Homo sapiens: one gene and its partners. The protein of the gene in region 6 purifies or fractionates together with the protein of the main gene of each other region. This does not show direct contact. Each region holds a gene or a part of one and is shown on either strand. Other genes may lie near its edges.

Region 1 (3,500 bases), on a different chromosome or scaffold from region 6:
CTGCTGGAAGAACGGAGTTCATCTAAATCAATGTGAAGATCCCTCTTATGAGTTTAATTCTACAAATTTGCATATATTTATTCTCTTCCTAGACCTCCCTAGCAGCTATCCACCCAACAGCAAAATATTAAGTGTGCAGAATCAAGGAAACATTAGTGTGCTTCTGCTTCAAGATACTTCAGCCATCCCAGGAGACTTGAAAAAGTAGTGGTAATAGGAGAGATGAAGGAAAAATGAGCAGGTCTGACTAGTAATTTACCTCATCATTTTTAAGAAGAGATGAGTTTATTATCCCAAAAGCAAATGTACCTGATTTTTAAAATTAGCTCTACTTTCACTAATCAATACAATCATAAGTAACGAATCAAAATTGGATAATGAAAATAACTTAATTCCCACAGAGCAGCCATCAAGTAACATGGCAAATTATACTCACTCTCCCAGGAACCAAAGGGATAGTAGCTTCAGCCTTGGTCCTCTCCGCTTCATCATAACTGGGCAGTGTTGTAGCTACATTGTAAGATGGGGGCTTTGGAAACCCAGACTCATCCTTGTAGTCAAAATATGCTGCAGAATTTTAACAGTCACAATTTTTTGATGATTAGCTGAATTGAAATAAAAGGAGTTCCACTAACTCTAGCAGACAAAACCCAGCCATTCCCTTAAGAGTACATACATAACAATTGAACCAAAAGACATTCTTAGATGAATGTAAGAGACTGGGGGTGATTTTTAAATGTATCCACTTCTCAATTATTTAAAATCCAGACTTGCTTTGTAACCTTTCTTCCAACTGCTTCTGAAGCTTTTTTTTTTTTAAACTGTAATGTCAAAGCACAGAGTGTTTTTAAGGATTCCGTGATCACCTTGCCCTGTTACCTACCTGCGCTCTCTGCAGAAATGCTGCTGTAAGGTGGAGGAGCATCACCTGCAGCCTGTTCAGGTTCTCCAGACTCTTCTTCATTCTGCAACTAAATAAAAATTTCATATTTTAATGTAAGCATAAAGCCAATTAGAAAGATAAGAACCCAAAAACTGAAATAAATAGCCTTTCTCGAAAGCTATTTGGCAACGTATTTTGAAAGCCTTGAAATGCACAAATCCTTTAAGAAAAGTATTCTACTCCCAGGAAGTTATTCTATGGAAATATTCAAAGAGGCAAAATGGGTACATATAAGTGTTGTGTCAGCAAAAATTAGAAACAACCTAAATTCCAATCATAGGAGACAAATAAATTATAGTACATCACACAAAGGACTACTAAACGGCCATTAAAAATTAAATTTTGCCATCCTGGCCAACATGGCAAAACCCAATCTCTACTAAAAATACAAAAATTAGCCAGGCATGGTGGCACACTCCTATAGTCCCAGCTGCTCAGGAGGCTGAGGCACAAGAATCGTTTTAACCCGGGAGGCGGAGGTTGCAGTGAGCTGAGATGGTGCCACTGCACTCCAGCCTGGGCAACAGAGTGAAACTCTGTGTCAAAAAAAATATACATTAAATTTCAGCCAGGCATGGTGGCTCACACCTGTAATCCTAGCACTCTGGGAGGCCTAGGTGGGTGGGATCGCTTGAGATTAGGAGAGTTTAGGAGTTCAAGACTAGCCTGGGCAACATGGCAAAACAAACCCTGTCTCTACAAAAAATACAAAAATTACCCGGGAGTGGTGGCATGCACCTGTGGTTCTAGCTACTCAGGAGGCTGAGGCAGCAGGATGGCTTGAACCCAGGAGGTCGTGGCTGCAGCGAGCTAAGATTGTGCCACTGCCCTCCAGCCTGGGGCATGAGAGAGACCATGTCTTTAAAAAAAAAAAAATTAAATTTCATTACTCAAATAGATATTTACAGTGTACTATTATTACATGAAAAAAGCTAAACTTGCCAAACAATAGGCATCATATAATCCTTTTTAAAAAGGCAGACATATAATGGAAAGGAGGCCTAGAATGAGACATTTACAGTTCAACACTGTTATTTCTAGGTAATAGGAGTACAGGGGAATTTTTCCTTTTTGTTGTGTATCTGCATGTTCAAATATTTTGTAGTGAATATTTATCACTTGCATACTTTTTTTTTTTTGGAGAGACAGGATCTCACTCTTGTTGTCCAGGCAGGAGTGCAGTGGCACAATTATGGCACACTGTGACCCTGGCTAACTTTTTTTAAAATTTATGTTTTGTAGAGATGGGGTCTTCCTGTGTTGCCCAGACTGGTTTAAAACTCCTGGCCTCAAGTGATGTATACTTTTTTAAAGTTAGAAAAATAATCTGTTAAGACAAAAGACAAATCACAGACAAACCATGTTACCATTATATTCCACATGCACACCAAATTAAATCTTAAATAATTGAGACACTTATGAAAACATAAAATTCTCCCTAATTCTACATATATCTGTCAATAGATATCCCTTTTCCCTATCTCAGCAACTTTTCTGCCAGTCAAATCTTCAATTTTTTAAAATAACTCGCACTGAAAGTGTCTGCTGTTGCTAGTCTGTATAGTCTACACAAGTCATCTTCATAGAATAAAGACATTTCATTTGGTTTTTCCAGTCCAGTGTGACAATGAACTATATTAATTTAAAACATGAGTTGGCTGGGACTAGGAGCCAATCTGAAAATTAATAACAGAATATTTAGTGATATAACTGACGTAGGGGTCTGGTCCTGGCTTCGGTATCATCAGGATATACAGAGCCAACTGACATACTTGTAAAATACATACCACCTCTAAACCATACCGCTACAAAGAACTCTATCTTGAATTGAGACAGAAAAACAGAGAGACCGAGGTGTACTAATGTGAAGTAGAGCTCCATAATCCATTAAATTTTCTTTCTTTCTTTTTTTTTTTTTTTTTTTGAGATGTAGTTTCGCTTTTGTTGCCCAGGCTGGAGAGCAATGGTGGGATCTCGGCTCACTGAAACCTCCACCTCCCAGGTTCAAGCAATTCTGTTGCCTCAGACTCCAAGTAGCTGGGACTACAGGCGTATGCCACCAGACCTGGCTAATTTTTGTATTTTTAGTAGACGTGGGCCAGGCTCGTCTCAAACTCCCGACCTCAGGTGATATGCCTGCCTTAGCCTCCCAAAGTGCTGGAATTACAGGCGTGAGCCATTGTGCCCGGCCACAATCCATTAAATTTTAACTGATCATCTCAATCTCCACTCACTATGCTGTTCAAAACCAGATGTCAATAAATTTTTCTGACTAATACTACAAAAGCTTCAATTTCAAATGAATTCTTGTGTCAAATTCTCATCAGCATCTACCATCTGGGTACATTTTTTCGAATCCTAGTAATCTAATGTTAAACTTAAGGTACTCCCAAAATAGCTGTATTATAACCTAAGATAATTTTTCCTTTTAAACAAAGACATGTGGCCAAAATAGGTGCAGTAAAGCCAAATGCTCCTGGGACACCGAACTAGGAATTACTTAAATAGAGTTCTTGGGACCATGGTTCACCTAAAATACTGGTTTTAACATTATTTG
Region 2 (3,500 bases), on a different chromosome or scaffold from region 6:
GTTGGCCAGGCTGGTCTCCAACTCCTGGCCTCAAGTGATCCATCCGTCTCGGCCTCCCAAAATGCTGGGATTATAGGCATGAGCCACTGCACCTGGCCTCCTCATTCATTTTTGATTTAATTTATTTGTCTTCTTTCTTTTTTCTTAGTTAGTCTAGTTAAAGTTTAGTGATTTCATTTATTTTTTCAAAAAACTAACAGAATTTTGATAATCTTTTGTATTTTTTTCAGTCTCTATTTATTTTTGCTCTGATTTTTATTATTTCTTTTGTTCTGCTAACTGTGGGCTTAGTGTATCTTTTCTTCTATTTCCTTGAGGTACAACATTAAGTCTTGTATTTGAGATCTTTCTTCTTTTTTGATGTAGGCGTTTATTGCCATTTCCTCTTAAAACTGCTTTTGCTGCATCCCATACATTTGGTTATGTTATGTTTCCATTTCATTTTCTAATATACTCTTAAAATTCCCTTTTGATTTCCTCTTTGACACATTGGCTATTCAGGAGCTTGTTACCATTCAAGTTCTTTGTTCATTTCTTAATCACATTGTTGGCTTTTTGTTGTTGTTGTTGAGTTGGAGTTTTTTATATATTTTAGATATTAACCTTTTATCAGATATACAACTAGCAAATGTTTTCCTCTTCCTGTGGGTTGCCCCTTCACTGTTGATCATCATTGGATGCACAAAAGTTTTTAATTTTTACATAGTGCAATTTATCTACTTTTTTTCCTATATTGCTTGTGTTTTGGGGATCACATTCAAGAAATCATTGCCAAATCCAAGGTCAGGAAGAATAGTTCCTATGTTTTCTTCTAAGTTTTAGGGTTTTCACTTTTATGTTAGATTTTGGATCCATTTTGAGTTAATTTTTGTATACGTGTAAGTTAAAGGTCCGAGGTCATTGTTTTGTGATGAGTCAATGTCTAGATTTCCCAAGACCATTTTTAAAAAGATTGTCCTCTCAATTAAATGGTCTTTATACCTTTGCCAAAAATTACTTGATCATATACAGTCATGCACCACATAACAACATTTCTGTCAACAACAGACTGCATATGTGATGGTGGCTCCATGCAATTATGTAACATGCTACACAGGTTTGTAGCCTAGGAGCAAAAGGCTATACCATATAGGCCAGGTGTGTCATAGGATACACCATCTAGGTTTGTGTAAGTACACTCTTCTGATGTTCACACAACACAATTGCCTAATGACCCTTTGCTCAGAACAATGTTGAGCAATACATGGTTGTACGTGCAAGTTCATTTCTGGGCTCTCTGGTCTATATGTCAGGCACCTTTTAAATCAGAAGTTCACTATTTAATGTTTGATCCTGTATCCCAATTTTTTAAGTTTGCTATATTATAACCCCCATTTATAAAAATGTGTGTCTGTGTGTATGTCTGTGTGAGAGAGAATAAGAGAAAGAGAGAAAGAGAGAATAGGCATACCTATGGAAAAATAGTGGAACTAAATGAGACAAAATATTAATGGATGCTATCTTTAGCTGAGAATATCACGTGTGGTCTGTGTATTCTTGTAAAAACTTTCCTTGCCCACATTTTCTGGAATGAACATGTTTAGAAGAGTTTTGCAGGTGTATGTTACTTGGCCTTCCCTGAAATATGAAGGGACAAACAAACACTAAAGGATGTTTGAGAGGTGAGAGCTGCAAGAAAGATGAGGGTTCTGTTTAGCTTGGGTGCCTGGGCTCAAGAGAATGTGAGTGGATCCTGGGAGGGGTGAGGTCTGGAAGCCACTCATGCCCATCCCTGCTTTGTCCCCACAGGTCTCAGCTGAGTCTGCTCTGATCACCCAACAAGACCTAGCTCCCCAGCAGAGAGCGGCCCCACAACAAAAGAGGTCCAGCCCCTCAGAGGGATTGTGTCCACCTGGTATGTTCAAGATGGGTCTCTAATCCTTGCCCCTCCTCCCCTTGTCTCCATGAGCTTCCAGTCTGTTTCCTTTGCACTTCCTTGTTCTTTATTCCACAGAGAGGCATTGGGTGCCTCCAGTTCAAGGCTCTGTCCTTCTGGAGCCTTCCTGCTAGGATGGTATCAAGACACACAAATGAATGAGACAGCCAAAGAAACTGATAGGAACCTTGAGAGAGAATTGAGTGGGACAGAGATGGGGCTGGTGAGGCCTCCAGGCAATGGTGACTTTGGGCTGACATCCGGAGGAGGGCAGGGCCAGAGGTTCAGAGAGCCAGGAAGAGTGCTCCTAGGAGGGTTCCACTGGAACAATTGCCAGGGGGCAAGAGTTGGAGAAGATGGAGCAACAGCAGGGGGCTGCTGTGGGGAGTGGAGGGTTAGGAAGTTAGAGAGACACGTGGGGTCAGATCCCACACAGATGAAGCTGGATTTTATTTCATGAGTGATGGATGTCCCTGAGAAGTTTTCAGCAGAGGGCCACCAGCATCGGATGTACATCTTGAGTGCCCACTCCTGGACTGAACCGGAGCAAGACAGGAAGCAGGTGGAGGGCCTTGAGTGTGAGGCGCTCCCCTGGGATGTTATGTGGTGTCCCGTAAGGTCATTTGAGCCCCCAGAGATGCAGCAGGAACCTGGCCTGAAGTGTGCTTGACTGTTGTGTTCGCCTCGCACTTCTTCCCCCTTTTCCCCCATGTGTATGAGTTAGGAATTGATTGCTGCATGAAGGTTTCCAGGGCAGGCAAGTGTGGCAAGCAGTGGCTTTTAAAATCCATTTACAAAGTTGCATTTCTTTTCCATGACTAAGGGCCACAGGAAAGGCTTGCCTGAGGGCAAACCCTCACATTGCACATGTGGGCTTGCCAGGAGCAGAGCATGGAGAAGGAAGAACCCAGCGTGAAGCAGACACAAACTCATCTGTAAATGCTCCTATTGCTGTGGTCCAGGGTCAAGACCAGGAAGCAGGACGGGAATAGGAAGGACTCAAGACATATTTGGGGTGTGGATGGATGACGTGTGGGGAATGAGGACAATCGAGGCACCAAATTCAACTGCTCAGGGTAACTTGGCCTCTGAGGGGACAGTGTGTGGCAGGGCTAGCAGTACACATTTGGGGACCCTAGCACATAGGTGATGCTTGAAGCCGCTGTCTTGAGTGTGTCCACCTGGAAGAAGTTGTAAATACTGAGGAGGGGCACAACTGAGCCCATGAGGATTTGAAGTTGGAGACGATAGGCCAGGGAGACAGGACTGCAATGGGCTGAGCAGGAGCAGTTGGAGAACTTCCATCCTAGAGGAGAGATGGCCCTTCCAGCCACAGGGAGCAGGCCATAGCAAGTGTCAAGGACTGAGATGTGGAAACTCCTCGAAATGTGCATTTCTCTTCCTGTGAATGAGGTCAAGAATCTGTTCATGACACAGACACTGTTTGTACACTGGTTCTCCTAGGTTTTCTTCACTCCTAGTAAGAGGTTAGGTTTTTTTTTTTTTTTTTTTTAAATCATTGAGTCACATGAATTCTTACAGATTAGGGAAATTATACATTGATTGATTGATTGATTGACTGATT
Region 3 (3,500 bases), on a different chromosome or scaffold from region 6:
CAGGCATGAGCCACTGTGCCCGGCCTAGCATAATCTTTTTTTTATTTTTTAAATTTGAGAAGGAGTCTCACTCTGTCACCCAGGCTAGAGTGCAGTGGTGCAATCTTGGCTCACTGCAATCTCCACCTCCTGGGTTCAAGCTACTCTCGTGCCTTAGCCTCCTGAGAGACTTGGATTACAGGTGTGCACCACCACGCGCAGCTAATTTTTGTGTTTTTAGTAGAGATGGGGTTTCACCATATTGACCAGGCTGGTCTCAAACTCCTGACCCCAGTGATCCGCCCGCCTGGGCCTCCCAAAGTGCTATGATTACAGGCATGAGCCACTGTGCCCAGCCTAGCATAATCTTTCTAACACTCAAGTCAGACTTCTTATTTGCCCTCACTAAAAACCATCCATGGCTCCCTGCAGAGAAAACGGCCACTCACCAGTCTTGCCCATGGGGCAGGCACAGTAGAAAGAAGCCACGCGGTCATGGCAGGTGGCCCCATGGAAGCACACGGCTGTGGCACAGTCATCGATATTCTGACTGCAGCTCTCGCCTGTCCAGCCATTGACACACACGCAGCTGTGGCCACCCAGCGTGTTGAAGCAGGTACCCCCATTGTGGCAGGCGTTGGGCTGCAGCTGACACTCATCCACGTCCTCCGTGCAGAACTGGCCTGTGGCACACAGATGCAGCAGTCCAGCCACCTGGCGCATGTCCACCCGAGGCCTGCCTCCCCGCTCCCTCTGGCCGCAGTGCCCACCTGTCCACTCAGGAGGGCACTGGCAGTTATAGGTGTTGACGCCATCCACGCATGTCCCCCCATTGAGACATCGGTGTCCTGGACAGTCGTCCACGTTCACTTCACAATTCTGACCCTCAAACCCTAGCAGGGAAGGGGGCAAGGATGGTCACCGCCGGGCTGGCCTGCTGTCCCCACGCCCACCCCTCTGACTCTCCTGAGTAGGGCTCACTCACCAGGAAGACAGGCACAGTCGTAAGTGAGGTCGCCACTCTGCCTGCAGGTGCCCCCGTTACGGCATGGTGAGGGTGCACAGGGCACCGCGGGGTTCTCACATAGTGGCCCTGTGTAGCCAGCTGGACACTGGCAGCGGAAGGAGCCAGGTGTGTTGAGGCAGGTGCCACCATGGCGGCAGGGCTCACCCACCCGGCACTCATCCACGTCGCTTCGGCAGCTGCGGCCCTGGTAGCCAGGTGGGCAGGAGCAGAGGAAGCGTCCATCGGGCCCCACTGAGCAGCGGGCACCGTGGGCACAAGGGCTGCTGAGGCAGGGATCTGGCAGGGAGCAGTCAGGGCCTGGAGGGACCAGGACAGGGTGAGTTTAGGACTGACCACACCCCCGACTACCTCCCCTCCAGACTCTTCCCCTCTCACCTCGGAAGCCACGGGGGCACCGGCATGAGAATCGGGCGGTGCCAGCCACCACTGAACTCTGGCAGACACCACGGCCAGCACAGGGGCCTGAGTGACAGGGGTCCTCCAGCTGACACCGCTCACCCACCCAGCCAGGCGGGCACCTGTGGGCAGAGATGGCTTGGTTGGGCAGCACAGGGCAGGATGGCCCCAGACACAAAGATACACACAAGACAGGCAAGAAACACGCAGGGAAACAGAGCAGCAAACACACATTTGCTGGGAGCAGTGGCTCACGCCTGTAATCCCAGAACTTTGGGAGGCTGCGGCGGGCAGATCACTTGGGGTCAGGAGTTCAAGACCAGCCTAGCCAACATGGTGTAACCCCGTCTCTACTAAAAGTACGAAACTTTGCTGGGCATAGTGGTGCGTGCCTGTAGTCCCAGCTACTCAAGAGGCTGAGGCAGGAGAATTGCTTGAACTCGGGAGGTGGAGGTTGCAGTGAGCCAAGATCGCGCCACTGCACTGCAGCCTGGGTGACAGAGTAAGACTCGGTCTCAAAGAAACAAAACAAAACAAAACACACATTCATTCATGCAACGAATATTTACTGAGTACCTACTACGTTCTGAGCAATACAAATACAGCAACAAACACAATGAAAGGGGTCCCTATCCCTCTGGATCCTTGCAGCCAGGTCCAGGCAAGGAGAACATATACGAATAACAAATTAATATACAACATGCTGGCAGGGGGCGGTGAAAGCCATCAGAACCATGAAGGATGTAGTCAGTTGGGTCACAGCCCCTGAAAAGATGACATCCATGTCCCAGAACCTGTGACTAGGACCTTACTTTTTTTTTAAATGGCTCTTTGCAGATGTAATTTTTTTTTTTTAAGAGACGGAGTCTTGCTCTGTCACCCAGGCTGCAGTGCAGTGGCGCGATCTTGGCTCACTGCAACCTCCACCTCCCGGGGTTCAAGCAATTCTTTGTCTCAGCCTCCTGCGTAGCTGGGAGTACAGGCACACGCCACCAGGCCTGGCTATGCAGATGTAATTAAATGAGAGATGTCAAGATGAGATTATTCTGAATTATCCACCTGGGCCCTAAATTCAGTGACAAGTGTTCATACAAGAGAACGGCTCACAACTGTAATCCCAACACTTTGGGAGGTCAAGACAGGATAATCACTTCAAGCCAGAAGTTCAAGATCAGCTTGAGCAACATAGGGAGACTTTTTTTCCACAAAAAAAAATTAAAAATTATAACCGGGCATGGTGGCAGGAGCCTGTAATCCCAGCTACTCTGGAGGCTGAGGCAGGAGAATCGCTTGAACCCAGGAGGCGGAGGTTGCAGTGAGCCGAAATTGCACCACTGCACTCCAGCCTGGTTGACAGAGGGAGACTCCATCTCAAAAAAAAACAAAAAACAAAAAAAACAAACAGGCCAGGCGCAGTGGCTCATGCCTGTAATCCCAGCACTCTGGGAGACTGAGGTGGGCGGATCACGAGGTCAGGAGTTCAAGACCAGCCTGGCCAATATGGTGAAACCTCGTCGCTACTAAAAATACAAAAATTAGCTGGGCGTGGTGGTGCACTCGTGTAGTCCCCGCTACTCAGGAGGCTGAGACAGAAGAATTGCTTGAACCTGGGAGGCGGAGGTTGCAGTAAGCCGAGATCGTGCCACTGCACTCCAGCCTGGGTGACAGAGAGAGACTCCACCTAAAAAATAAAAATAAAAGATTAGCTGGCCGTGGTGGCTCACACCTGTAGTCCCAGCTTCTTGGGAGGCTGAGGTGGGAGGATCGCTTCAGCCTGGGAGTTGAAGGCTGCAGTGAACTAAGATTGCACCACTGCACTCCAGCCTGGGTGACAGAGCAAGACTCTGTCTCAAAAAAAGAGAGAGGCAGCCAAAAGGAGATTTGGGTGGGAGAAGGAAGAGAAGAAGACAGAGACAGGGACTGGAGTGAGACAGCCACTAGCTGAGAAACGTCTGGAGCCACCAGAAGCTGCAAGAGTCAGTTCTCCCCTGGGTCCCCATGGAGAGGCTCAGCCCTGCCGATATCTTGATTTCAGACTTCCAACCTCCAGAACTTCAAGAGAATAAATTACTATTGTTCAAGCTACCCAGTTTATGGT
Region 4 (3,500 bases), on a different chromosome or scaffold from region 6:
CAACCACTGGATTATGACGGGAATAAATTATAGTCTCAGCCAGGACCCCTGACCCAGGGAAGGAGGGGCCTGTGGGGAAGAGGGTGAGGCCGCCTTCCCTCCTCCAGCCAGTTGGCCAGAATCCGTGAGCAGAGCCAGGAACAGCCCTCCCTCCCACGGCTGGTATCGGGGCTCCCACCAGCTGGACTGAGTCCCACCCTGTTGCAGCTCTCAGTTTCTCCATCTCACTGAGGAGTGGAGGGGGAGATTAGGAGGAGTGTCGCAGAGACTTGGAGGCGGCAAAGGGTCAGCAGGAGACTAACTCTGGAGGCAAATGACCAAAGGGGACCAGCAGAGGTATCTTCCTGCGGCTGTAACCCCTAAGCCTCCAGGCCCCTTCCTCTGGGGCTGGGGTCCCCCTTGGATTACTGTTTCCCAACTTTGTGCCTCCAAGCCTCTGTACCTGCCGTTCTGTCTATTGGAAAAAAATGTCCTTCTCCTGCCCCAGCACTCACTCACCCCTCAGAACTCTGCTCAAGTGGCCCATCACTATCCATCTTCCCCACTGACCCTCCCCAATTTTCCAGGTTTGTACAGTATAGTGAAAGCAGCAAGAGGCTGTAGACCAGAGGTTCTCAATTCAGGGTAATTTTGCCCCCATGGGACATTACGCAACGACTGGAGACATTTTTGATTGTCGAGACTGGGGAAAGCGGGGAGATGCTACTGGCATCTAGGGGGAAGAAACCAGGGATGCTGCTAGACACCCTACAATAACAAGCCCTGCCCCCACAATAAGGGTTATCTGATCCAAAATGTCAATGGTGCTGAGGCTGAGAAACCCCAACACAGACAACAAGATCCTTTGCCAATTGAGCCTAGAGCCTGACCTGGCCCCTGCCCCAGAACCCAATCCCCTGTGGGCACCCTGGGCCTTGTACCCAAGGAAGCTCCAACCTGGCTTAACTCCTGTATTTGCTGGCGCCTGGCCTCAGGATCTCAGAGTATCTTCCCCTGTACCCCCACATCAGCCCTACCCAGCCTCCAGAAGTCAGGTCCTATAGCACACCCCATCTGCACCCCACCAGACATGCCATCAGCTAGTGGCCTCCCGAGAGGACAGAGGGCTCCACCTTCAGGTACCTATTCTGGCAAGACTGGACTTCGAGTTAGGTCAGACCATCATCTGAGGATGGAGAGGCAAAGGGACACATAGTGTCCCTACACCCACCCTCCCCATCTGACCTTTCCAGCCTGTGACACAGCCCCTCTTGCTGCACCCTCTACATAACCCCAGTGCCCATCTCACCAAACGTAGGGTCTGGACCCCAGGAGACACCCAGGACATACACATTTCCTTCCCCTACCCAGGCCAGACCCATCTCTTCCACAGCCTTGTTAGTTCAGCCACCCGTCCAGATGTTCAGTGGGCAGGGTGATGAACAAGAGAGTCACAGGCTCTGCCTTCGAGGAGCTTACAGAGGGTGAACAGACCCACCGAGCTCTTGGCTCAGGATGGCCCAACCAGAACTCATCTGCCCCAATTCCACTCCTCCTCCAGGGTGTCCAGTCTTGGGGACAGCACCACCATGTTGTCAGTCACCAAGCCCGCAAACCCTCCTTAAATGCTCCCTTGTCCTCATCCCACACATCTAACCCATCAATAAGTTTGAATCTGACCTGCCTCCATCCTCACTGCCACTGTGTTAGTAAGACCTCATCACTTCCTGCCTCTTTGGTGGGCTTCCTGCCTTCAATCACTCCCAACCCATCCCGCACACAGACCAGTGCCACCTTTCAGCACATAAAAATGCAAATCTGCACTTTTGTTTGCCACTTTATTTCACAGCAGGCATTCAGACAGTGTTCCGTGAAAGAATGAACGGATGGGCAATGGACAGATCAACACATGGATATTGCTTCTCTGCTTAAGAACCTTCAATGCTGCTGTATTGCCCTCAGGAAAAAGTCTAAAGTCTTTAGCCTGACATCCAAGGCCCATGATGCTGACTCTAAACCAACTTACCAACCTCATTCCCTGCAACTCCAGCCCACCCATTCTGTGCTTCTAACAGACAGAGAGGAGAACAAGGGGACATCAAAGAGATGCAGAGGACATGCCCAGATCCTGCAGGCACCAAGCTCTTTCTACGACAACCTACAGTCGATGGGAACAGTCTTTTCTACAGAAACGTGGCGAATGGAGAAGCAGAAGAAAGATCCTGGTGTAAGTCCCAGGACATCACCCGGAAGCCTATTTCACACCTACAGTAGCTGACGAGCTGTATGTCATTCCCCATCCACCTCTATCATCCACTCCAGCCAGAAACTCAGGCACCATCCTTGACACCTCCCCTCCTTCATGCCCCACATTCAATCCTTCACCACGTCCTGTCTACTCTACCTCCCTAAATAGCACTCACATCCCTTCTCTCCACTTCTGTCACTGCCTCCCTGGTCCAGGCCTCCACAATCTCTCACCAGTGCACACTGGATCATGTCATGCCCCCTGCTGACACCCCCTCTATAGCTCTCCACTGACCCTGCATCAAATCCAAGCTGCTCAGCCTGGTCCATAGGACCCCTGTGCACCCCTGCTCCTGGCCACTCTGTGGGGCACACTCACCGAGTCTTTGCTTCTTCACCCCGGTCACTCTTGCTGGATACTCAGCACCAAGGGCCGGGCACCAGGGCCTCCACTCCTTCCTGGACAGAAAGGAAAGCATGAGAAAACATCAAGAATTTCATCACAACAGCATATGTATTGACACAGAAAGACATTAAAAATTTGCTGTTTATGCAGAAAAAAAAGCAGGTTATGGAAATGTTCATGTAGAACCATCCCCATCTGGTAAAAATGCCCATCTTTTCCCTTCACTCCCTCGCTCATTCATTTTGATACTCCCTAAGCACCTACTATGTGCTGGGCGTCCTTCCAGGCACCAGCCATATAGCTGTGAGCCACACAGACCAAGTCCCTGACCTCAGCAGTAGACTCTGTGGCCCAGCTCCTCAGCATGACCCCAGAGCCAAGCAGAGTCGGCCCCTCCCACCTCTGCAGCCCTACCTGCCCATGCTCTCCTCCTGCCAGAACGGGAACTTCCTCTTCTGATCCTCAAATGTGCCAAATTTCTTCCTGTCTCCCAGCCTTGCCAGTGCTGAATGCCACTGCCTGGCACAGGCTACCCATGCTCTTCTGGCCAACTTACCCTCGGATCTCAAGTCCAGTGGCACTTTCTCAGGGAAGCCTTCCACAATGTCCCAGACTACCTGCCTGGACCTTGGCTTGGAGCCGTGACCACAAACATGACTATTTATATATTTTTACAATTACTGAGTCACTACCATAAGCTTGATAGGAGCATGGACTGTGGCTGCCCAGCTCATTTCCGTATCCCCAGCGCCTGGCTGACAGCTGGCACATAGTAGGTGCTCAGTCAGCATACACTGAATGAGTGGATGAACGCATGAATGAGTTCAAAGAAAACAGCCCAGCCTGGAAGAACACACCCCAACATACA
Region 5 (3,500 bases), on a different chromosome or scaffold from region 6:
TGTCTCTACAAAAAATACAAAAATTAGCCAGGTATAGTGGCATGCACCTGTAGTCTCAGCTATTCAGAAGGCTGAGGCAGGAGGCTGGCTTGAGGTTGCAGTGAGCGGAGATCGCAGCACTGCACTCCAGCCTGGGCAACAGAGCCAGGTGCTGTCTATGGAAATAAAAAAGGAAATTGTAATCAAACAATTAGCTTTTCAGAAATGATTTAGTTATAAATTCTACATATGAATACAGGACAGAATCTAGACAGTAGGTATTCCTCCAATATATTTACTGATGTGAACATACAGCGATGTGTACACCAGGCATGTTTCTCCTGGGGGAAATCGATGCTTTCATATGGCCCCTCCCTTCTTTGTCTCATGGGTCCCAAATTATATCTTACTTTGCACTGAAAATCAGATCCTTCATATTTCATACACCCTGAAGCTAATGTGGTTTCTCCCTGGTCATCTTCTTCTATGATGGCAAAGCAATGTCCATTAGTTCTAAAACAGAAAAAAACAAAACAAAACAAAACATAAATTCACATAGAAAGTACTAACGAAATTTGAGTCTGAATGTGAACAGGTACAGATGGCCTTTAATACTTTGTTTTGTGACTTAGAATTGCATTCACACGTGATTTATTGGCAACGCCAGAGGTTTTAAGACAAATGAAAGTTATGTCTGAGCCAAGATCTAAAAGGCCAGTGACAACCCTTTGTCAAGAAGAAAAGGATTTCAATTAAACAAGTCCTCCACATAGGAGTTATGTGACTTCTCTTTGCTAATCAGTCATGTGATCACAGAAAGCTGATTTATAAAATTTTATGTCATGTTTTGAAAACATACTTTAAAATAACTTTGTCTCTTTTTACCCATTTTTTCAGTACTTCCATATTGTATATGATAATAGATAAAAACAAACTTTTCTCTGAAACATACAAATAGGCTTAATGACCAAAAAAAAGGGGACTAAAAGGCACCTTTTACTGAATATGATGGGAAAACAGGGAGAGGACTTTTGAATAAATTTTCAATAAATTTACATACATATATAATGAAATTCTTATTTTAGTGTTAGCATCCTGGAGTTTCCCCTTAATATATTCATATAGACTTTAACAGGTATGGGAGAAATTTCTAAAAGCTTTTTCTGTACTCCTATTTATTGTTAATATCAGGAATTGTGCTGCTTCTACTTAGAAGAATTTTGCAGAATTCTTGGTTTTCTGTTAGGAGAAAATGTTAAGTGTGGGGCAGAATTCTGTTAAAATGGATGATTCAGTTTTACTCTGGGTTACTAAGCTACTAACAGACAGCCCATTACATCAGGCAGGTACTACAGACAAGAAGTTTAGCAAAACATTATTTGGTGACATAGCAGAGAGCAGTTCCCTGCTGGCAAACTCTCACCAAGGTAAAAATGAACAACTAGTCACAGTCAGCCACGCAGAGCCCACCACCACCAGGGGACAAGCAGCAAACCTAAGACACGATGACCGTCATGCAGGTTCAAGAGTTTACGTGTAAAGTTTCATGCTTTCTATCTGGTCCATTCAGGGAACATACAATTATTAAAAGTATAAAACATGACATTCATTATTGCCTCTATAACAAGGAGACAATTAATTGACTGATGAGGTTGAGTTGTTCAGGCAATTTTTTTTGGTCTTATTAAGTCAATATGTCAATGTTTCCAACAAATATGGACTAGAATTACATGATCATATATAAACATGTTGTGCAGCTAACACGAAATACACTAGAAAAATTAAAATCATTTTATAAATCAGATTTGGATTGGTAAATTCACAGGTAAGAAAAAAGCATAAAATTAATTAACACAATATGATTTATATATATCTGCAAAATATTTCAACTAATTAAGAAGTAGGAGGCCAGGTGTGGCAGCTCACCCTAGTAATCCCAGCACTTTGGGAGGCTGAGGTGGAAGGACTGCTTGAGCCCAGGAGTTTGAGACCAGCCTGGGCAACATAGCAAGATCCTGTCTATAGTTAAAAAAAAAATTTTTTTTTAAATTAAAAAGAAGTAGGAGGTTGTCAGTGAGTTTTCTGATTTCTTTTTTGGTAACCTCTAAGTTTTCTAAAATGAGCATCAATAAATTTAAGATTAAAAGATCATTAAAAACTCAGATGTTAAATACTAGATCCCTTTGATCTTATTTTAAAAGCTGCATTATAACATAATTCTAATATAGTAACTCACCTATCAATCATTTAATGGAATAATGTTCTAATATACAAAACAAAAGGCTTTTTGGCTTTCTGGAAAGATACTATATATGAATGAAAAAAAAACCGCAGACAAGTTTAATAATTCTTAAAATAGCACTAAATGCAACTCTATTCTCCTAACTCTTAAGAAGGGCTGCATAAAATACTTACATGCATGTGTTATTAATAGCATCATCTGGACAGTGCCCTGAGCAATAGCACTTTAAAAAAGGCAAGGTATCCTCTGGTGCTAAGGTTACTCCATTTTCTGACTTTTTCTGGTCGGAGTCTGATTTCATCCCAGTGCCATGAAGCATACTATCCAGATTCTGTCCTGCATTCAAATATGGAATTTGTAAGTAAATCATTTCTGAAAAGCTCATTGTTTCGTGACAATTTTCAATGAGAAAAAGTTGTTAAGCTTTCTTATCACAATAATTGTAGCTAGCATGTTTCTTTAGAAATATAAATTTCATTCATACAACAAACAGACATACATTATTATGCACAGAATTACTGCACCAGGTATTGCGGGGTACATGAAGACAGCTATATCACAATTTTTGCACTAGTGAAAGACAAACAAGAGTGGCGCAAGGCAGAATACAGTCAAATCTTGTTTTTTATATTTTTAAAATAACTTAAAAATTTTTTAATTTAACCAGGGAAAAGCATGAACGCAGTCCCCCACCACCACAATTATGCAGTTGAGTTTCCCACATTTGGGGAAATCGCAGGGGTCAGCACATCTGGAGTGCAATGAATAAGCCTCGCCCTGGGAAAACCACCTTCGTGACCGTGGTCTCTCCCCTGCCAGGTAAAAGTATATAGTCATCACTTGTAAGAAAGGTACAAAAGGGGGAGAGACTTCACAGAAGTCTGTGAGAGTTTCCAATCATTAAATAGAGACAAGTTATGATTCTTCTTTTAACTCTTTGGTTCAAAACTTGTGACCAGCTTTCCTTTATTTGTGCCTCTATGTGGAAAAGGAGTTACTAAGCATCTTGCTTTGGCCTTTAATTGCTTAAGTAAGGAAATCATGAGAGCATGGGGACCAATCATGTTATCTGGAGATTTTCACCTCGAGGTCATTGGTTTGAATGCAGACGATGCTGGCAGAAACTGAAGGTTATAGAAGGGCAGCAGTTAGCTCACAGAAATAGAACTATGTTCTTACACTAGAGTCTAGCAGCCTGCAGTGACAGATACTGTCATATTTGGTACTAAATCTTTCAGGCTGGAAGCAGAACGGAACTAAAAAAACTGTTCTAGTAATT
Region 6 (3,500 bases):
TTCATTACCCATAATTATTGCTCTTTAGTCTTCTCTTTTGAGATATTACTGCATATAACCCAATGGTCTAGTATTTTCAACTTTATAACTTTTTTGATGAAACGGGCTATTAAGCAGCCCTCGAAAACAATCCATTTGCCTTCTCTTTGCTTGCTTGAGACCCACATTTGACAAGTGGTATTAGAAGCCCTGGGCCATGTTCTTTACATACAGCATTTTAAAACTCAGTGATCCTATATAATAGATATTGCTGTTCCAGTTTGTGAAAGACAAAACTGAGGCTCATACAGGTCAAGCATTTGCATAAGGTGTCACAGCCATAAGTGGCAGAAATAAAATTAGAAACAGTCTTAACATAGAACTTAGTAGTCTAATAAGCTACACTTCAGTAATTTTACATTCATTTCCTCTTCAGTCAATATACTTTATCTAAACTGTGAAACTGGTAGTAATGAGGAGATAAGATTAACATTCAATTGCAGTTCTTTTTTTTAATTATACTTTAGGTTACATGTATACATGGGATACATGTGCAGAACATGCGGTTTTGTTATATAGGTATACACGTGCCACGTGCCATGGTGGTTTGCTGCACCCATCAACCCGTCCTCTACATTAAATATTTCGACTGGAATTCTTTATTCATCAATTGATTCATCCCCCCACTCATCCATCCTATAATCAGGTAATGAAAGTCATTACAGATAGTTCCTGACAAGAGATAGTTTAGCGTAGAATTTTTTTTAAATTTTATGATGGTGTGAGATCAATAGACATTTAGTTGAAACCATACTTCAAATTTTGAATTTTGATCTTTTCCCAAGCTAGCAATATAAAGTATGATCATTTCTCACAATGTCAGGCAACGGCAGGGAGCTGCATCTCCCAGTCAGTCACATGATCATGAGGGTAAACAACAAATACTCTACAGTGTACCACGTTGCCAGATGATTTTGCCCAGTTGTAAGCTATGTAGGTTTATCTGGATGTAACTTCATTGTAACTTGAGGAGTATCTTTATTTGCCTGGCAATGTGTAAAGAAGTATGAACAACACGAAGATCCGATTTATGTCTTGAAGTCTCAAAGTAAGAGATTAATGTAAGCAAAATGAATGCATTACTGGGAGACAATAAACTTTTCTAAGTTGATCTCCAGAAGGACATCCCAAGGATGGCAGTGAGTGATCAGGATAAGGATAAAGATCTGAAGCTAAAAGATCAGAAAGTCAAAAAGAAACTGAGCCATGGATCAGTAGTAACAGTGGTGAATAAAGACACCATGGTAAGCCATCTACCAAACAGAATCTTTACAGGAGTTGTCTGGTAACAAAAGATGATATTTTCTTAACATTTTAGCATCTATATGGCACATTCACATGTATTTTTCATCTTTATACTGCCTATTTGATGCTTCAAAGCTAAATTAAAAGCTTGAGATAGTTGCTTTAAGAAGGGATGAGAGGATTATGGTGCCCTTTAGAACACTGCTACTCAGATTAGTCCACTCACCAGCACCAACATCATCATTTAGAATCATTGCAAGAATGGAGAATGGGTGGATCACCAGACCTATTGAATCAGAATCCACATTTCTACAAAGCTTCAGGTATTCTATAGATTTTAATAGTTTGCCAGGCCTTGCTCTAAGAAGTAAAAGAAAGAGTTAATTATCATTTTATGTAAATTGACAAACGTTCGAAAGAAGGAACAGAGAGTCAGCTGGAGAAGAAATGCCAAGGAGAAAGAGGCTCACACATCTTAACTTCCTTCTCATTGGACAGAACAGAGACCTACAAAGCAAGGGAGGAACACTACTGTTTCTGTAACTTCATTTTCACTTTTGAAGCAAGTACACTGTAGGCATGAAGCCATCACTCTTGCCTAGCTTTAACAGATACTCATGAGGAAAACTAAATAATTGCTAATGTTATCATATTGGAAGGCCTGCAGCAATATGTTAGAGAAAGAAAAGTGCTAAAACATGATTCCAGAGATAACATGCGCAAGGAAAAAATTGGAGAAGAGCAGATGAGAGATTCTATATGTAGCTCTGCAGACCTGACAGATGTGGCAAATACATTACCCAGGAAATAAAAGACACTTAAAAGTGTATGTCCCAGTTCTCATCTCTTATATTGCTATTTCATATACCAGAAATATCTTCAAAATCCCACTATTTTATTATTCTCTCACAGGATACTCTGAAGCCTTATTTACAGCAATTCTCAAGATCCATAATAACGTATTTATGTGTGTTTAAGCTCCGTAAAAGACTGGGTTTTCTTTGTTTATTAGTCAACCAATAAATATTGATCATCTTATTGGATAGATGAATATTTGCTGAGTGAATAAACAAAATAATGTTTATCTATTAATATGATTGTTCTTTCTCCTAGGCATCTGTCTAGCAAGAAAGTCTATCAAGAAACTAAATAAACTTTATTGAATACTTTTGACTTTCAGGCCTTAGCTAAATATATGTATTTTAATCATAAGTGCTTTCTAGTGTTACACTGTTTAAAATATTATTTTCTCTTTTTCTATACGTTTATTAGTTTCTGTGTCTTAATTTTGGTTGAAACTATGTTCTCCATAACCATATAAAATTAGTAACATTTGATGACAACTATTTTACATTTCAGACATATATGCACCACCTTTAAATAGCACACGCTAAATAATTGTTGCTAGATGGGAATTCTAGGGTCTTCAGGGTCTTCTATCATGCAAGCCCTTCTTTCACAACAGTGGTCATGGACATAAAATCCACTTTATTCCAAAAGCAGCCACTAGGTGGTGTGGTGGCTCAAGTCTAAAGCAAACTTCTGTTTACTTAGGAGTTTCCTACTATAATTCTAACCCTAACTTTCTATATGCTTCCATTCTTAGAGGTTTAAATAATGACTGGAGGGCCCTTGAACACAGGCTTCAAGATATTAAAAAATATAAATCAAAGCTTTTTATAGAGTGTCACTTAGGGAAGATGCCTCGAACAATTTGTTGAGATATATCCCCTCCCAAATGGGGTAATATTTCATTCATAACTTTATTAAACAAGAGACAATTCTTGTATACAAAATATTTCTTTTTCTAAGATCTGAAAAGTTATACTTTAAAGAGCTAATTGTAATTAAATGTGAAAAATTATTATAAAATTAGAAATACCTGCTGTAAAGTATCCCAAGGGCCACATCGAAGAATTTCCAGTTTATCCAAAGCGGGTGTCATGTTGGCTGGGCATTTCACAGGTCTCTTTCTTCTAACAATTTTCTTTTGTTGATTTTGCTTGAAAATTTCAAGCCAAGGTTTAAATGATTTTATCCAGGCTAGTCTCCTTTCTTCAATAGAATATAGAAGGGTTGACTCTGATACACAGCAGGTCATGCTATCAGGTTCAGGTGCATTTTCATGGCATTTTTCTGAAATATTTCTAATCTCAGATTTAAGAGAGTTGACTTCTTTAGATACCATGGAGCTTTCTGCATTATAGTTACTCAAG
Region 7 (3,500 bases), on a different chromosome or scaffold from region 6:
CAGAGGTCACGGCAATACAGATCCTCTTCAACGCGCATGCACACGACACCCCTCCTAGCACCCATCAACACCTACGGCATGCACACACTGCAGTGCCCACGCACACACTGACTTGTATATGGCCTGCCCAGTGACAGCCCTCGGAAGGCACCCAGTGACTTGGGCTCCCCTGTGCTGAGGACCTAAACTGGGAAGGTGGCCTATAGCTGCAGGCCTGTCCAGGCTGCACAGCTCACCTGGTGGCTCCAATAAAGACTCTGATGGGTGTGGGGAGAGTAACTTTCCTCTTAATTTCAGAGAGGCTTTTGCTGTTTCCTGTCTTTTTGGTTGAGACAACCTGCTACCAATTAATGCCCAAACAGAGTATTGCATCCTCCCAGAGAGCACTGATTCATGACAGAAGTCAAGCTGAGTTATAGCAAGTAACTATGACAAAAAAGAAAACCACCTGGCGCTGAGCACTTGGTCTCCTTAAAACAAGTAACTTGGTACGCAGCACTTGCTCGGTTCCCACATGCCAGCTGCCAACTCTGATAAAAAAGCACCCCTTGCTGGCCAGGGGCATTCCACACGTACCAGGAGGGGCAGCACGTGACCTCACGACATTTTTAAAGTCTCCTGCATCACAGGTGCCCACACCACCACTGCTCCATATGGGAAAGCAGGACAGCCAGAGGGCTGTGCGACATCAGGCAAGTCACTGCCCCTATCTCTATTCCCAAGCTATCATCAGAAATGATTGTAGAAGCGACCCCACCTACCGTCCATGCTGCTGTGAGGATGAAACGAGGTAACAGAGGAAAGCGCCGCAGGAAAGCATATCTGGACCCAGGTACTGTTTCTGCATTACTTTCAACAGGATGCACTAGTTTTGGCTCTGTTTTATCACTAAGCAGCTGACATTACCCAGAGGATCCTTGACTATGCCTGCTAAGGAACTCTATGAATTAGTGACGGGGGTGTGTGTGTGTGTATGTGTGTGTGTGTGTGTGTAAGAGAGAAAGGGCATTGTGTGAGGACTTCTCAGGATGGTGGCAGGTGCCCATTTTCCTAGGGTTACCATGAAAGTTATTTCTCACAACAATCACTGCACTGAAATTATAATAATATAGTATTTTCATAGCCTCCCCTAACATGTAGCTGTAACCTTAGTAAAAGATTTGATCTATATTACACATAATTACTCACCCAGAAAGAGCCAACTATGAGCTATCCATGGAAATGAAGAAATAACACAGCAAATTCTCCAAACTGACAATAATCCCCAAATTCCCTATCAGTTGGCTTCGGAATATGTTTTTGTGCTTCTGCACCTGACAAAAGAAGCATCAGATATGTGGAAATTTTTTAAACTTCCAAAGGAATTAGAAGCTACACTTTGTGGATTTTATCCCATATTTATCTTCCCTCCTTTTAGAGTTACTCTCAGGCAGATCAAAGCCTTAACCTGAGGAAAAGCTGCAAAAAGGGAAATTACTTTTAAATTTTCAGCTTCAAGTTGTAAGGGTGTGAGGTGAGTCTGCATGTAGTAAGGTGAATGGGGAGGGGATTATTAAGATAAAGAACTGTTGTGACTTTTAAGATCTCTTCCTTTGAATTCCCATTGTGTGTCACAGAGGAATTAAGAAAAAGTTGATGACTGATCTTCTGAAGGAATGCATGCAGAGAAGTAAGAACAACAAGGACTGTGCAAAGATTGGGCTGATGGTAAGCACCAGGAAGGCCAGCAGGGGCAACTGAGGACTGACTCCATCCACCTGCCTTCAGTGCACAGTCAAACAGCAGGCAACGGGATAGACGATTAAGTTGAGGGAAGGGGAAGAGTGAATGAGTAGGGGAAAGGCTGGCAGGGTGTGTCTGAAGTTGGGTGAGAAAGTGTGGCTGACAGAGAGAAAGAACCTCAGAGGGAAAGCAATCCTCAAACTGGCCCAAAGATCCCCATAGTCGGCAGAATCTTCTTGTACCTTCAAGAAAATGGTATACAGAATCATTTACTGGGCCTTGGGGTTCCCTGGTTACAAGGTATTCTTGTCAATGACTAAAAATCTCCAGGCCACCAAGAGAGGTTAATTCAGACCCCCATCTGGAGCTCTGGGTAGACCTGGGAGGAAGCTGGAGCCCTGGAATAGCAGAACCTTTGTGCCACCATCGCTGAACAGGAGAAACCACCAAGGGCAGCTGTAGGAGCTCTGGCTCCAGCACTTGACAGGACAAAGACAGGAGATGGGAGAGAAGGGCTCAGACCACAGCCTTTCTTTCATGACGCTTCAGTACATGAGCTGTCCGGAGTAAAAAAAAGGGCTGCATGGCAGTGACAGCTACAGCATGACCTGGAAGACCTGAGAAGATTCAGGGTGCACGTTGAGTCGTGCTACACAGGATGAAGCTGGGGGAGGTCTGGGAGATTTCCAGGGCTGAGGCGGACAGCCTGTACCACGTTGCATTTTCTTAGCAACTCCCCAACTTACAGCCTATCGGATGCTGTTAGATTCTGACACATTTGGTACGAACCAAATGGCTATGACTTAATTGTGCATTGAAAACCGCATTGACAACCAGGAAAAACTGGGAGAATTTGATGCAATTGGTAGTGTTTCTGGTTGATACTGCAAATAAATAAATAAATGTATTCAAACTGAATAAAGCAATACATGATGTAATAAAAATTACTTAAACTAATTATAATACAAATATAGTAGGACCTTCTAAAAGCATGTACATAAATCATGTACATTTAAGAAAGGTTACAGCTACACAAACTTGTGATTTTACATTTGATTAATCCTAAGGAATTGACAGGCACTACACACTGGTCTTTCCATCAGAGAATGGACTTACTGAGTAACTGCAGCTTTTTCTCTCTAGAATCTAAGGGCTGAGAAGAGAGAATTTTAAATGTGGAGGAGATGTTAAGAATCAGTGTCCAACTCTCTTATTTTATAAACGAGGAACTTGAGGCCCATGTAAATTAACAGACAGTATTTATCTTTTAATAACAATCTTTATCACTGATATGAAGCTGTTTGACTTCCATAAATATTGCACATATTTTAATAAGATTTATAGACCATCTAACAGTTAAATTTATATAACCTATGATTGTAATTCAGAACCAGAGTTTCTAATGAAAACTAATAATTTGCTTTTGTGCAACCTGAAGGATTTATTGTATAAGATTCCTAAGAAAAATGGTGAATATGTTTAACTAGAATTTCAGAATGAAAACTTACAGAATCTGGGTCTTAATGAACCAAATCCTCTGTAAAATTCAACAATCTTCTATTTCTTATATAAGTCTTCTTAAAGTATTTCTAATATGATGCTTTTAAAATTATCTAGTGGCATCTGAGAACACTTATAGAAGCTGCAAAGCCTTAAAAACTGAATCATAATGAAATATTTATTATATACCTTCTTTTGCATAATCAAAGTTTCAAGACCTGAATCGTGAATATTCTGACAATCCTCTCTAGATAGTGAGTGAGATTCTTTTTTTTTCC

Evidence for each region.
Region 1: the proteins of LRRIQ1 (region 6) and NDFIP1 purify together in Homo sapiens (affinity purification with mass spectrometry; 2 studies listed by BioGRID and IntAct, with this or other methods). This does not show direct contact.
Region 2: the proteins of LRRIQ1 (region 6) and TNFRSF10B purify together in Homo sapiens (affinity purification with mass spectrometry; 2 studies listed by BioGRID and IntAct, with this or other methods). This does not show direct contact.
Region 3: the proteins of LRRIQ1 (region 6) and NOTCH3 purify together in Homo sapiens (affinity purification with mass spectrometry; 2 studies listed by BioGRID and IntAct, with this or other methods). This does not show direct contact.
Region 4: the proteins of LRRIQ1 (region 6) and PTPRF purify together in Homo sapiens (affinity purification with mass spectrometry; 2 studies listed by BioGRID and IntAct, with this or other methods). This does not show direct contact.
Region 5: the proteins of LRRIQ1 (region 6) and BMPR1A purify together in Homo sapiens (affinity purification with mass spectrometry; 2 studies listed by BioGRID and IntAct, with this or other methods). This does not show direct contact.
Region 7: the proteins of LRRIQ1 (region 6) and MYO5A purify together in Homo sapiens (affinity purification with mass spectrometry; 2 studies listed by BioGRID and IntAct, with this or other methods). This does not show direct contact.

What each region holds. Positions count from the first base shown.
Region 1 is NC_000005.10:142,129,279-142,132,778, reverse strand, and holds part of NDFIP1 (NEDD4 family-interacting protein 1), read right to left. Parts: intron 972-3,500; coding exon 884-971; intron 568-883; coding exon 437-567; intron 1-436. UniProt on the Homo sapiens protein: Activates HECT domain-containing E3 ubiquitin-protein ligases, including NEDD4 and ITCH, and consequently modulates the stability of their targets. As a result, controls many cellular processes.
Region 2 is NC_000008.11:23,041,532-23,045,031, reverse strand, and holds part of TNFRSF10B (tumor necrosis factor receptor superfamily member 10B isoform 1 precursor), read left to right. Parts: intron 1-1,788; coding exon 1,789-1,894; intron 1,895-3,500. UniProt on the Homo sapiens protein: Receptor for the cytotoxic ligand TNFSF10/TRAIL. The adapter molecule FADD recruits caspase-8 to the activated receptor.
Region 3 is NC_000019.10:15,190,996-15,194,495, forward strand, and holds part of NOTCH3 (neurogenic locus notch homolog protein 3 precursor), read right to left. Parts: intron 1,525-3,500; coding exon 1,382-1,524; intron 1,304-1,381; coding exon 965-1,303; intron 873-964; coding exon 750-872; intron 663-749; coding exon 429-662; intron 1-428. UniProt on the Homo sapiens protein: Functions as a receptor for membrane-bound ligands Jagged1, Jagged2 and Delta1 to regulate cell-fate determination.
Region 4 is NC_000001.11:43,537,383-43,540,882, reverse strand, and holds part of PTPRF (receptor-type tyrosine-protein phosphatase F isoform 1 precursor), read right to left. Parts: intron 2,686-3,500; 5' UTR 2,606-2,685; intron 1-2,605. UniProt on the Homo sapiens protein: Possible cell adhesion receptor. It possesses an intrinsic protein tyrosine phosphatase activity (PTPase) and dephosphorylates EPHA2 regulating its activity.
Region 5 is NC_000010.11:86,889,119-86,892,618, reverse strand, and holds part of BMPR1A (bone morphogenetic protein receptor type-1A isoform 3 precursor), read right to left. Parts: intron 2,558-3,500; coding exon 2,395-2,557; intron 493-2,394; coding exon 390-492; intron 1-389. UniProt on the Homo sapiens protein: On ligand binding, forms a receptor complex consisting of two type II and two type I transmembrane serine/threonine kinases.
Region 6 is NC_000012.12:85,056,851-85,060,350, reverse strand, and holds part of LRRIQ1 (leucine-rich repeat- and IQ domain-containing protein 1), read right to left. Parts: coding exon 3,167-3,500; intron 1-3,166.
Region 7 is NC_000015.10:52,308,881-52,312,380, forward strand, and holds part of MYO5A (unconventional myosin-Va), read right to left. Parts: 3' UTR 1-3,500. UniProt on the Homo sapiens protein: Processive actin-based motor that can move in large steps approximating the 36-nm pseudo-repeat of the actin filament. Can hydrolyze ATP in the presence of actin, which is essential for its function as a motor protein. Involved in melanosome transport.